Homo sapiens: one gene and its partner. The protein of the gene in region 1 interacts with the protein of each later gene in a biochemical or structural test. Each region holds a gene or a part of one and is shown on either strand. Other genes may lie near its edges.

The links. Proteins that work in one complex are often made in the same cells at the same time.
Region 2: the proteins of NFIB (region 1) and ERG form a complex in vitro, tested with the Homo sapiens proteins (one study listed by BioGRID).

What each region holds. Positions count from the first base shown.
Region 1 is NC_000009.12:14,114,080-14,123,391, reverse strand, and holds part of NFIB (nuclear factor 1 B-type), read left to right. Parts: intron 1-2,767; coding exon 2,768-2,952; intron 2,953-7,045; coding exon 7,046-7,184; coding exon of another isoform or gene 7,185-7,211; intron 7,212-9,312.
Region 2 is NC_000021.9:38,378,379-38,383,493, reverse strand, and holds the end of ERG (transcriptional regulator ERG), read left to right. Parts: coding exon 1-91; 3' UTR 92-3,458; downstream 3,459-5,115. UniProt on the Homo sapiens protein: Transcriptional regulator. May participate in transcriptional regulation through the recruitment of SETDB1 histone methyltransferase and subsequent modification of local chromatin structure.

The DNA of each region.
Region 1 (9,312 bases):
GAAAGAAGACAATAAGGCTTTGCAATAATGTATGCAAGAAATACACATACATGTGTATGTATTCTTTCATAATAAAGGAAAACTTTTTGTCTTGTATTTTACTTTTCTTATTTTTTTTTCTTTTTCTTTTCTTTTTTTTTTTGAGACAGGGTCTTACTCCAGGCTGGAGTGTAGTGGCGTGATCTTGGCTCGCTGCAACCTCTGCCTCCCAGGTTCAAGCAATTCTCCTGCCTCAGCCTCCCGAGTAACTGGGATTACAGGCACTCACCACCCCGCTCAGCTAATTTTTGTATTTTTTTTAGTAGAGATGGGGTTTCACCATGTTGGCCAGGCTGATCTCGAACATCTGACCTCAAGTGATCCACTCCACCCACCCTGACCTCCCACAGTGCTGGGATTACAGCCGTGAGCCACCATGCCTGGCCTGCTTTTCTTATTTTTAAAGGACTAGAATGGCTTTTATGGAAAAGGTAGTCATTTTTACTCTCAGTTTGAAATACGACATTTTACCCAGTGGTATCAGGCCACCTACAGCTCATGCAAGCACAGTGCCAGGTTGCCCATAGATGTGAGTTCGGGTTTGATTTCTGCAATTTCACTTGAAAATAGATCTCCTCCAGAACTATTAAGGCCAAATTAATCTCAAAAGCTAAAGGACCCAAGATGGAACTATGTATATATCTTTCCAGGGTTTGTGTACAGATGTGAGCAAAAATCATGGTTAAAATGAGCTGAGATTAAGAGCATTTAGACACTAAGTAAAAGATGCCCAGTTTTTCTTAGATGTTTGTATTTCCTTAAATGATACTTTCAAATGGGTATACTTCTTAAATAAAGTAATACTTCAGTAAAGAGTTTTGTTTTAAGAAATACGCATTTGTTCTCTGAAATGCATACATTTGATGGAGGATGCTCAAACTTCAGTATGTAGGAAGATTACATGGACACTTATTTAAAATATACATTTTGGTGCCTTACCCCTAGAGGTCCTGATCCCCTAGGTCTGTGTGTAGACCAAGGGATCTGCATTGTAAGAACAATACAGAGAATTTCAGAAACAGTGCTCTGGACGTTCAGAGAACAAAGTCGTGACTATAAAATTGAATTTATGTTTTTTCTATTCTATACATTCTTAATTTCTTATATCTTCTGAAAAAGTTTTTTTTGGGAGAGGTAAGCAATACATCCCATAAATAGGTCCCACCCCCCCACCCACATAGTTTCAAAGTTGGAAATAAATCATTCTAGGTGATTTCCCTTTGTAGGTTATGGCTAAAATTTATTTTTTTTCATATTCTTTAAGTTGTCTCATAAAACATTAGACATTTATCGTTTATAATTTCCTATTATTTGAATTGGGAAATATTAAAATAGAAAGACATTTACTTTTCACTTCTACATATATTTGTTGGTAGTTTTAATTTGTATTTCTATGATTATTTCTCTCAACATTTTAGAGATAATGATCATACGATTACACTCTTTCTCCATCTTTCAAACTTAAGATTTATATTTCAAAAACTGAACAATAAATTATAAGAATACTAATGTTGAGAAGTTATAGTAAAATTGAACATTGTCCACATTGCATGTGTTTTATATAGTATTTCCCTTTATAAAATTATTATAAAATATGTGATATATGGGTAAAGTAATATACTTACCTATATGAAAGCTTAAATTTTCATTGCTGTGTGTTTTATTCTTGGTTTTATATTAACAATATCTTTTAAACTACATATAGTAAAAGTTAAAGTAGAAAGAAAAATAGTTGCAGAATAGAGCTCTTTTGGTTTTGAAAGAAACATTTTCATTAGGAGAGTTTCTAGCTCTATGTTCCAATGTTCATAAGCATTTATACCATGACCAGACAATTATAAATGACATGAGATGATGTTGTATTAGTTATTGTCTTTCCTTCTAAACAATTGCCAGGTAGGATGTACAGGGAAACGTTTTATTTGAAATTGAATTTCACTTTTGTTTTTAATTTTGGTAGAAAATTTTTGGCTCTTTTGCCCTCTACTTAATGCTGTGACTTGCTCTGGACTTATGAGACAAAGTGTTTTTTGTTTGTTTGTTTGTTTGAGATGGGGCTTATGAGACAAAATGTTTTTTGTTTGTTTGTTTGTTTGAGATGGGGTTCTGTCACCAGGTTGGAGCGCAATGGCGCCATCTCGGCTCACTGCAACCTCCGTCTACTGGATTCAAGTGATTCTCCTGCCTTAAGCTCCCAAGTAGCTGGGATTACAGGTGCCCATCACCATGCTCAGCTAATTTTTTGTATTTTCAGTAGCGATGGGGTTTCACCATGTTAGCCAGGCTGGTCTCGAACTCCTGACCTCAGGTGATCCACCTGCCCCAGCCGCCCAAAGTGCTGGGATTACAGGTGTGAGCTACTGCACCCGGCCTAAAGATTTTATAATCAAAGAATATGTTTTCAACGGGATATATCTTTGCTCAAAGAAGTGTTTTATCAAGTATTGACATAACCTATAAAAGAGAAACTGATTTTGTAACCACTCACAGAGCCAGGAAGCAAGATTGTTAATTTTCTAGAGTGATGTTTTATCTCTGTGTAGTTAGCCGTACTGGTGTTGAGAATAAAAATGAAAAAGTAACTGTTGATTTAGGAGAGCTTGGTTAAATCATGGGGACAAAAATGAATGGTTACCAGTTTTGTAGTTTCACAGCATTCTTCAGGATCAGAATGGAGCAATAAGGTAACCAGCTGATGAGTCAATCTTTCCTTTTCTGTCTTCTGCAGTCATCTCAACTCGAACTCCACCTCCACCTTCACCGTTGCCATTTCCAACACAAGCTATCCTTCCTCCAGCCCCATCGAGCTACTTTTCTCATCCAACAATCAGATATCCTCCCCACCTGAATCCTCAGGATACTCTGAAGAACTATGTACCTTCTTATGACCCATCCAGTCCACAAACCAGCCAGGTAAAAATAAGAGAGAAAATAAGATTAGCACCTAAGGGAGATGGGACAGATCTAATTCTGAGACACAAAGGTTAGTCAGACAGTGTGTCTGGCAGAACGTCAAGCCTTGAAATCCATCTTCAGGAAGTTGCTTGGTGACTCAATAAGTTTTTATTTAAAGGTGGCTGAATGACAGGTAGGAAGTGTGTTGCCCCAAAGGGTACATTTGTGAAGATGGTTTAATGTTTTTGGATTTTCACTGACTGAAGGGAAAGTTTATGCAGAAAGTACATTGACAGGAAAGCTCTGGGCTGGAGTTCACACCTCTTAAATACCTGGTTTGACACAGAGACAATGTGCTTATTTCAGGCAGGAGTAAGGTATGTGCTAAAATAAACACACACAAAAGAACTTACAGTTGTATTTATAGACCAACTATTAGGTATTAAAATAAGCTTTGGTAATGTAAACATTCTCAGTGTTTGATGACTACTTGAATATTCTTTGCAGAGACATGACTTACATTTAATAATGAGTGACATTACTAGAAGCGTCTTTCTTTTTTTTGGAAACATTGTGCAGTGGTTTTGGGGATTCATTTTGTAAGTGTAGTGACTCATGAGCATTTCTCACTCCCCTAGACATATGGTTTCTTCTACCAAGAGGTTACTTCATAGGAATTTGGTATATGAGCATTTTCCACAATCAAGTAGACAGTCTTTGTGCCAGACCTGGGGCTATCAATAATTGTAATATCTAAAACATGTAATGTAATTTTGATATTAGGATCTGATATTTAGCTTTGCTGCTTTACCTCTAAGACTCCTGTCCACTTATTATACCTTTTAATATTTTGGAGAATTTTCACAAACATTCCGTCATTACTACGGTGGAACATTCCTGAAATGCTAGTAAATAGTGTGTGTCTATCAATTTAAATTAGCAAAGAAAGGTGAGAAAAAAATCCCTTTGGTCTTAATTTGTTAAAATGAAACAAAATGGTCCTTTCTGAACTTTTAATTTAGAATAACAACGCATCCAGGACCCTTTGGGTTACTTAAAAAGTTATCATTACTTTTAGTTTGACTGACTGAGATATTAAACTCAATATTGAATTTTGAATTTGAAGTTAAAATTATTATTTGTATTTTAGAAGAAAATGTTAAAATGTTGTAGCACTTTTCATGACTGAAGTACTAAAGACAGCTAAGTGAGAGTGGGATCTTAGTATATCGTTTAGAAATAAAATTTGTTGTCAGCTCATGGATTCAGAAGTCTCAGTTCCATAGAGCATTTTGCTAGACTCAGCTGGGAACAGTGCACACAAGGTCTGATTTTAATTTGTGTAGAATTTCCATGAATAACAAAGTCTAATTAAGACATCCATTAAAAGTCCTTAACGTTAATTCAGTGTGGAAAATCTTAGAGTTCCATTGGATTTTTTTTTTAACTGATGTCTTAATTAGGCACTGTTAGGGGAAAAATTATGCAAATTAAAATCAGGCCCTTAGTGTTACACATTTCTTTAATTATTCAGTGCTTGTTTTACGTATATTTCAATTTCTTTATAAGTTAAGAGGGCATATTAGGTGATAATCTGCCTATATTGTTCTCAGTTTTTCTTCACTTTTTCAAGATACATATCACCTTCTAAGGAAGCATATTACTCTCATCTCAAAAAAAAAAAAAAAAGAAAAAGAAAAACTAGCAACAAAAAAACTCTCAGGATTTTGTATAATAGGAACCGTGTATAAAGTAGAATAATCCTTTCCTAATGCTGTTAGCTTCACCTTCAGACAAGACATCTCTCTTTTCTATCTACAGTATGAAAGTTCATCTATTAACAGCCTTAAAAGATAGAAATTTTTAGTGTAGCTTCATCTGTTTGAACCAGTAGAAAACTGAGGAGAAAATAGCCCTCAATTCTTCTCACCCTGAGTTTTAGGAAAGTTGTCTGCATTGACTTGGGAATTCTTTCTTTGTCACCTTTATTCTTTTCAAATGAGAGAAGTGTCTACTAGTTCATGTTGTTCAATTCCAGTAGGTGAAGTTTGTAGAATGGTCAGGGTAGGATAATATATTTGGTGGCAGCATTTCCTTGAAATTATTGTCATTCTGCTCCAGACATTTTGTTCCAGGTAGGTACTTTCAGACTGTTTTGGTGAACACTGTATGTAGAAACATTTTTACCATTGAATGTACCACCAATGATAAAATGAGACCTGTCTTCTTTCTTAAGATATTTAAAGCACTTATTTCCAGTGTTCAGATAACCAGAAATGGATGGCCTGCTGTAGAAACAAACTACTTTTTCCCTTTGAAAGGAAAAATGGGTCTTTATAGTTAACTGCAGATTTTTTTTTTAAGGAACAGTGTATCTGCTTTGATTTTTAACTCCAACTCAAAACCAATTAATTTGCATTTCAAATTAGAATTCTTGGTATTTACCATTTTAGCTTTAGAAATGGAAAAACATCAGTATTCCTTCACCATTCACTTCTAGTCAGCTGTTGCTTCCCAATATTCTCCAGCACTGCACTGATTTTGATTTTTAAGATAAGCAACTGAGATGCCTTTTCCTCCCCACAGCAATTTTGAGATTAATTGCATTACTGCTGCACCAATTATAGTGAGACAGTCATGCTATTCAATGGAATATTTTGAATAAAATTAGTTTAAAGATGTAACTCTCCCATAGGTTTCCATATTGGAAAACTCTGGTCAATTTTCCTGACATCAAGTTAAATACTTAAAATTACCCATGATGAATAATCAGGATATTCAGGAAGTCCATTTTCTTTATAGAATAAATAATGTGGCCTCTGAGGAGCCTAACCGAAGACTTAGTTCATGTCTCTAAGTCACAATATTTAAGTGTTATTAGCTGTTCATCTTTTTCTCTAAATAAATGTCTACTTGTAATTTATGTGCAGATATTTAGAAAAATATTCTGCTTCATTTTTTTTTTGCCTTTAACAGTTCAGATTATAAAGACTATATACTTGCCGAGAATAGCCTCCCAGCAAATTGCGATGAACACCGTGCAGTGGAGAATTCCAACATGGGTATAATCAAAAATAACATTCTCAGTCTAGAAAAATATATTCCACTATTTCTTCAAAGAGTGTATCCTTAGGATTTTGTTTCCTACCACGGAAACTATTTTTGTACCCAGGAGCTAAAACTCAGATAGTAACATCTTTTCTATCATTGCCCAGGGGATTTTCTCAGTTAATTCTCACAAATGTCAACAAGAAATGTTTTGTGTAACTCTCCATGCACCACCATGGATGTAAGAGTAACTCAAATAACAATGCTCATTTGCTTGTCCTCTGCTTCCCCTCAGTACAGTTTAATTTACTTTGGAAATCTTTTATTTGTAGGTGTAAGGACAAACGTAGCTCAGCATTTTATATCATTGTATGACCTCTGAAATTTTAGATGCTTTACATCTTATTCTATCTTCTTGTATTAGTAAATCATCAAAAGTTGACCATAGATCTCGGAATCTAAATTGCCTAATGTGTGCATCTCAGCACACCTGTGTGTAAGAGAGCTAGAGTTTTGTATGCAGGAGAATGGTTCTTGACTGTAAATGATGAAAATTCCAGAATTCGTTGTATTTGATCTCCTAGATATTTTTGTGTCCTTTGTTTCAGTGATATCATCATGTAGGTGAAAATTGTGTTCTAAAAGCCAAAACTGACTCATTATAGAAAATGAAGAGCAGAGAATAAGGAAGCATTGGGTTCCAACTGTAGCTAGTTCAGTAAGGAATTCCATTTTAGCCTTTGGGCTAAGCATTTAAGTCTGCACTTGAGTTTCTTGGCCTACTACATGAAAGGATCAAGTCTACCTGGCTCTCAGGGGTGCTGTAAAGAGGAATTCACCTATACCATGACGTGCTTTGAAGATGAAAACCTTCTTTGAAATGCTGCTGCTCCTTATTACTACCAACCATTGACTGGCCTCTCCGACTCCGACTCGAGAGGGCCTGTGTGGCGCCTATGCGCAGTGTGCTGGATCCACACAGTCGTGTGTGCTGAGTGGACTTGTTGAACAAGATGACTGCCTTTTGGATTGCTTCACCCGGCATTCTGTTTTTGTTTTGTAGCCTAACGGCAGTGGTCAAGTAGTAGGGAAAGTGCCTGGCCATTTCACTCCTGTCTTGGCACCCTCTCCCCATCCCAGTGCAGTGCGACCTGTGACCCTGAGCATGACAGATACTAAACCCATCACTACATCCACTGAAGGTGAGGCAGCTTCACCTACAGCAACCAGTAAGTATTTCCATAGGAAATGAGAAATGTCCATCAGAGGCACCATTGGATATCTGATCCAAGGTGGAAAACACGGCAATTTTTCCAGCTACCTGACCAGATGGAGATTTCTCATTTAAGTGGAGCTAGCAGGCATGGATGTGGCCCTGCTATCACAGGCTCTCTCTTCTCAAATTCCAGTCAGTGAATCATATTTGAAAAGGGAGAAGCTCACTTGTTTAAGTTAACAGCTATAACAAAAATAATAAGTCATGCCTGCTTGTTCAAGGTATACATTGAAATTGCACTGAGTAACATAACGCAGAATACAAAGTTTTCGTATCACCCAAAGAGAGATTAGGTAATTGGTACTTATTGGAGCATTCCTATAGAAATCAAGCCCCTTCACAAAGCAGATGGAATCAGTGCCTCTGTAAGGTAATTGCATGTTTACATCATTGTAGGTTATGTCATTGTTAAAAACAGTCGCATAAGGTTGGGAACAGATGAGGACATTTCAAAACTTAGTATTAGGCACATGTAAGCTACCTGTACTTTCACTATCTGCAAGCTTTTTTTTTAAAACCTTTTGATTATTTTGCTTATCATTGGTACATCAAATACTGTGCTTTTTAGTGTGGCCATAACATTTAAATGTCAGAGATTTAGCCAGTGAACCTTCCTAACACGTACCAATAAGCCGCATCATTCCTTTGTTTTTTCATGTAAAATACTTAGAAGTATAGAAGAAATTAATTTTGAGGTGGTTTCACCCAACTGTCAGCTTCTTAGTACTGGAGCTGGAATGTACAAATTGGTGAAGTAGAATGGATAAAGCTATCGAATTGGTGGAATTAGCATGCACCTCACCAATTATACAGATATCTTCAATTCAAACCTTTTTTTTTTCTTTCTTAGAGCAAGAAAATCCCCATGATCTTGAAATTTCCATGTGAATCAGAGACAATCAGAGGCATGCACCACTCATTCTTTCTCAGCCATTGGAAAGATGCTCTTTTTTTTTTATGGTTTCTGAAAGACTAGGAAGGAACCCTATAAGAAAAATGGACAATACTTTGTACAGTGAATTCAGCATTTCTTTCTCAAAATTCATGAGCCCCGTCAATTAATAAGTTCCTATAGGCTTGTAATACCCATCAGTAATTCTTAATGCTTAGAATACTTCCCTGAATGCACAGATGGATGCGACCTACTCAGGAAAAACTAAAAATTATTTTGTTCTAGAGGTTTGCTATGTGCATTACAGTCACCAAAACACTAAGTACTCATTTTAAAAGTGGATGTCTTCACATCTTTGAGCAAACAATGTCAGCAATTTAAATAAAAGCACACAGAAAACAAAGATTTTTTTTTAAGTAGTTGAAAGATTATCACAGGATAAATGGTCAAAACCAAGTTCTAGAAACTCTGATGCCTACTCTTGTGGTGTTATTAATAGAAGAGATTCAGGAGAGGATCAGACCCAAATGATCACAGTTCACTTATAGGAGTACCCTCAGCCTGTTTGTTAATGAATTGTTTTTATACTTACATACAGGTTGTTCAAAAAGGGATCTGATTTGACTAGTAAAATTACAAAATATTCAAAAGGAGTATCTTGGTTGTATAAAGATGGCTGCATCAGTCCATTTTCCACTCCTACATAAAAGAAACATAGTGAGTAGTTTTTCTTTCCTATAAACAAGCTTGTAGCTCCAGCTTCTTAGGCACCACCAGTAATAAAAAACTGGTCATTGAATTGATATAGTACTATGGTCAAAGAAAACACAGAAGCCAAGGAAGGCTCTTTCTCATAGTTGAAAAGAAAAAGCAGCATAGATTTGGTGCTCTTCTGTAAGGGTGAGGCTCATCTCCGGCTGTCTGTGAGGTGTGGTGAATTCCAGAGGCTTGGAGATTGAGTAGGGGTCACTGGTTGCTGATGGCTGCCTTGCATGTCCCCTTATTCAGGAGCAATTAAAATATGAATTGTGAGCATCTTCACTGTTTTTAAAAAGTTGACCTAAAAAAGCTTCCATGGATCAAATTCTGCAGTCCTTTAAGTGAACAAGGCAGAATTAATATATTGGTTTTAGAAAGCCAGTTCATTTAAAATGAAGCCTGG
Region 2 (5,115 bases), on another chromosome or scaffold:
CCCATACTGGAATTCACCAACTGGGGGTATATACCCCAACACTAGGCTCCCCACCAGCCATATGCCTTCTCATCTGGGCACTTACTACTAAAGACCTGGCGGAGGCTTTTCCCATCAGCGTGCATTCACCAGCCCATCGCCACAAACTCTATCGGAGAACATGAATCAAAAGTGCCTCAAGAGGAATGAAAAAAGCTTTACTGGGGCTGGGGAAGGAAGCCGGGGAAGAGATCCAAAGACTCTTGGGAGGGAGTTACTGAAGTCTTACTACAGAAATGAGGAGGATGCTAAAAATGTCACGAATATGGACATATCATCTGTGGACTGACCTTGTAAAAGACAGTGTATGTAGAAGCATGAAGTCTTAAGGACAAAGTGCCAAAGAAAGTGGTCTTAAGAAATGTATAAACTTTAGAGTAGAGTTTGGAATCCCACTAATGCAAACTGGGATGAAACTAAAGCAATAGAAACAACACAGTTTTGACCTAACATACCGTTTATAATGCCATTTTAAGGAAAACTACCTGTATTTAAAAATAGAAACATATCAAAAACAAGAGAAAAGACACGAGAGAGACTGTGGCCCATCAACAGACGTTGATATGCAACTGCATGGCATGTGCTGTTTTGGTTGAAATCAAATACATTCCGTTTGATGGACAGCTGTCAGCTTTCTCAAACTGTGAAGATGACCCAAAGTTTCCAACTCCTTTACAGTATTACCGGGACTATGAACTAAAAGGTGGGACTGAGGATGTGTATAGAGTGAGCGTGTGATTGTAGACAGAGGGGTGAAGAAGGAGGAGGAAGAGGCAGAGAAGGAGGAGACCAGGGCTGGGAAAGAAACTTCTCAAGCAATGAAGACTGGACTCAGGACATTTGGGGACTGTGTACAATGAGTTATGGAGACTCGAGGGTTCATGCAGTCAGTGTTATACCAAACCCAGTGTTAGGAGAAAGGACACAGCGTAATGGAGAAAGGGGAAGTAGTAGAATTCAGAAACAAAAATGCGCATCTCTTTCTTTGTTTGTCAAATGAAAATTTTAACTGGAATTGTCTGATATTTAAGAGAAACATTCAGGACCTCATCATTATGTGGGGGCTTTGTTCTCCACAGGGTCAGGTAAGAGATGGCCTTCTTGGCTGCCACAATCAGAAATCACGCAGGCATTTTGGGTAGGCGGCCTCCAGTTTTCCTTTGAGTCGCGAACGCTGTGCGTTTGTCAGAATGAAGTATACAAGTCAATGTTTTTCCCCCTTTTTATATAATAATTATATAACTTATGCATTTATACACTACGAGTTGATCTCGGCCAGCCAAAGACACACGACAAAAGAGACAATCGATATAATGTGGCCTTGAATTTTAACTCTGTATGCTTAATGTTTACAATATGAAGTTATTAGTTCTTAGAATGCAGAATGTATGTAATAAAATAAGCTTGGCCTAGCATGGCAAATCAGATTTATACAGGAGTCTGCATTTGCACTTTTTTTAGTGACTAAAGTTGCTTAATGAAAACATGTGCTGAATGTTGTGGATTTTGTGTTATAATTTACTTTGTCCAGGAACTTGTGCAAGGGAGAGCCAAGGAAATAGGATGTTTGGCACCCAAATGGCGTCAGCCTCTCCAGGTCCTTCTTGCCTCCCCTCCTGTCTTTTATTTCTAGCCCCTTTTGGAACAGAAGGACCCCGGGTTTCACATTGGAGCCTCCATATTTATGCCTGGAATGGAAAGAGGCCTATGAAGCTGGGGTTGTCATTGAGAAATTCTAGTTCAGCACCTGGTCACAAATCACCCTTAATTCCTGCTATGATTAAAATACATTTGTTGAACAGTGAACAAGCTACCACTCGTAAGGCAAACTGTATTATTACTGGCAAATAAAGCGTCATGGATAGCTGCAATTTCTCACTTTACAGAAACAAGGGATAACGTCTAGATTTGCTGCGGGGTTTCTCTTTCAGGAGCTCTCACTAGGTAGACAGCTTTAGTCCTGCTACATCAGAGTTACCTGGGCACTGTGGCTTGGGATTCACTAGCCCTGAGCCTGATGTTGCTGGCTATCCCTTGAAGACAATGTTTATTTCCATAATCTAGAGTCAGTTTCCCTGGGCATCTTTTCTTTGAATCACAAATGCTGCCAACCTTGGTCCAGGTGAAGGCAACTCAAAAGGTGAAAATACAAGGTGACCGTGCGAAGGCGCTAGCCGAAACATCTTAGCTGAATAGGTTTCTGAACTGGCCCTTTTCATAGCTGTTTCAGGGCCTGTTTTTTTCACGTTGCAGTCCTTTTGCTATGATTATGTGAAGTTGCCAAACCTCTGTGCTGTGGATGTTTTGGCAGTGGGCTTTGAAGTCGGCAGGACACGATTACCAATGCTCCTGACACCCCGTGTCATTTGGATTAGACGGAGCCCAACCATCCATCATTTTGCAGCAGCCTGGGAAGGCCCACAAAGTGCCCGTATCTCCTTAGGGAAAATAAATAAATACAATCATGAAAGCTGGCAGTTAGGCTGACCCAAACTGTGCTAATGGAAAAGATCAGTCATTTTTATTTTGGAATGCAAAGTCAAGACACACCTACATTCTTCATAGAAATACACATTTACTTGGATAATCACTCAGTTCTCTCTTCAAGACTGTCTCATGAGCAAGATCATAAAAACAAGACATGATTATCATATTCAATTTTAACAGATGTTTTCCATTAGATCCCTCAACCCTCCACCCCCAGTCCAGGTTATTAGCAAGTCTTATGAGCAACTGGGATAATTTTGGATAACATGATAATACTGAGTTCCTTCAAATACATAATTCTTAAATTGTTTCAAAATGGCATTAACTCTCTGTTACTGTTGTAATCTAATTCCAAAGCCCCCTCCAGGTCATATTCATAATTGCATGAACCTTTTCTCTCTGTTTGTCCCTGTCTCTTGGCTTGCCCTGATGTATACTCAGACTCCTGTACAATCTTACTCCTGCTGGCAAGAGATTTGTCTTCTTTTCTTGTCTTCAATTGGCTTTCGGGCCTTGTATGTGGTAAAATCACCAAATCACAGTCAAGACTGTGTTTTTGTTCCTAGTTTGATGCCCTTATGTCCCGGAGGGGTTCACAAAGTGCTTTGTCAGGACTGCTGCAGTTAGAAGGCTCACTGCTTCTCCTAAGCCTTCTGCACAGATGTGGCACCTGCAACCCAGGAGCAGGAGCCGGAGGAGCTGCCCTCTGACAGCAGGTGCAGCAGAGATGGCTACAGCTCAGGAGCTGGGAAGGTGATGGGGCACAGGGAAAGCACAGATGTTCTGCAGCGCCCCAAAGTGACCCATTGCCTGGAGAAAGAGAAGAAAATATTTTTTAAAAAGCTAGTTTATTTAGCTTCTCATTAATTCATTCAAATAAAGTCGTGAGGTGACTAATTAGAGAATAAAAATTACTTTGGACTACTCAAAAATACACCAAATTCTGTGCCTTCTTTTTATCTTTTAACCTTGGTTTAAAGAAATCTTGTTGACTCACACCTGTAATCCCAACACTTTGAAGGACAGAGGCGGGTGGATCGCTTGAGCCCGGGACCAGCCTGGGCAACATGAGAGTACCCAGTCTCTACAAAAAAATAAATAAATACAAAAAGCCGGGCATGGTGGTGCACAACTGCAGTCCCAGGAGTTCAAGGCTGCAGTGAGCTGTGATCACGCCACTAGCCTGGGTGACAGAGTGACACCCTGATTCAAAAATAAAATAAATTTTTGACAAAGCAGCCCAGATTAATGCTATATAGAAACAACTAGATAAACTTTTCTAACTTGTAATTTTAAACTCATTTTACTGAGTAAAACATCATTATCTTCTCACAAAAAAATGTTAAACTATTATTCTGTTGGAGAAAGTCATAATATTACCTGATTATAATTAGTGCTAGAATATGTGAATTACAAACTTCTGCAGGAAGCATGTTATATGTAGAAACTTTATGGAAAAAAAAAATGGTTTTTTCATGTTCTGTAGCCACATGGCATGTTTCCTAAAGAAGATAATACAGAAATAGTAGGTAGGCAGAATTTCATCCTGATATGACTTCATAAAACAATCTGGAGATGTTACAAGTTTATGACTCATGACTCATTGAATAAGCACAGCCAAACAGTACTAATTAAAAAATGGATGCTCGTCTAGAAGGGAGGTCGCAGGATTAAACCCCAGGCTGCGGCCCTTGAACTTACTTGGTCATACTTTACTCAGATGAGGATACAGAAGCTATCCTGATCTCAGCTCCAAATGCCATGGGGCTGAGATGACAATAGGTTATGTGACACATCCAGGATGCCAAAGAACAGGCTGAGGTGACGGGTTAGATCTTGAAGGTGTTAGGACCTCCATCCAGTCCTCCCCAAAACATCTGGGAGTTTGATGGAGCAGCAGCACATGTGAAAAGACTTCAGCGTTTTGGAGATGACAGCAATGAGATGTAGAATAGCAGCTTTTAATGAGCCATGACTAGGTCAGGTGCTGTATACACACTGCCTCATTACTCCTTCCAACTGCCCCTACGGTACACTTAAAAAAATGTCTTGACAGATTGAACAATTTGCCCAGCTCTGCAGCGTAAGAGGTGCAACAAATGCTTGTTCCAGGGCTAGTTAATTCCAAAAGCTTTTTCTTAATCTTAAGCTATTTTGCCTCATATGGACAGAAAATTAAACGGGAAGGTGACATGACTGCCCAATCTTAGGTTGCATTTTCTGAAACAGGTCACAAACGAGGACTTATTTGTTATACATTAGACTGCAACATCAATTCTGGGCCTACACTTAAAGAGGGACATAGGACAGTTAGTGCAGGTTCAGTGGGGAGAGACAAGGGGAATGAGAGAACCCAGGACCATGTCAAGTAGGGGCTGTCAGTGTCTCTGCTGAAAGTGGGATTACCCTTATCACCCATTGATTCAGGACCCAGCACAGTGCCTAGCAATATCAAGCTGTTGGAAAACGTTTGCAGCTATATGCATGAATGAACATCCAGAAAGGTAACATCTGGACTAAAGGTGGGCTCAGCAGGGATGCCCATTGGCCAAATTCAAGAGAAAGCTTTTTAGAAGTTGGAGGAGGTCC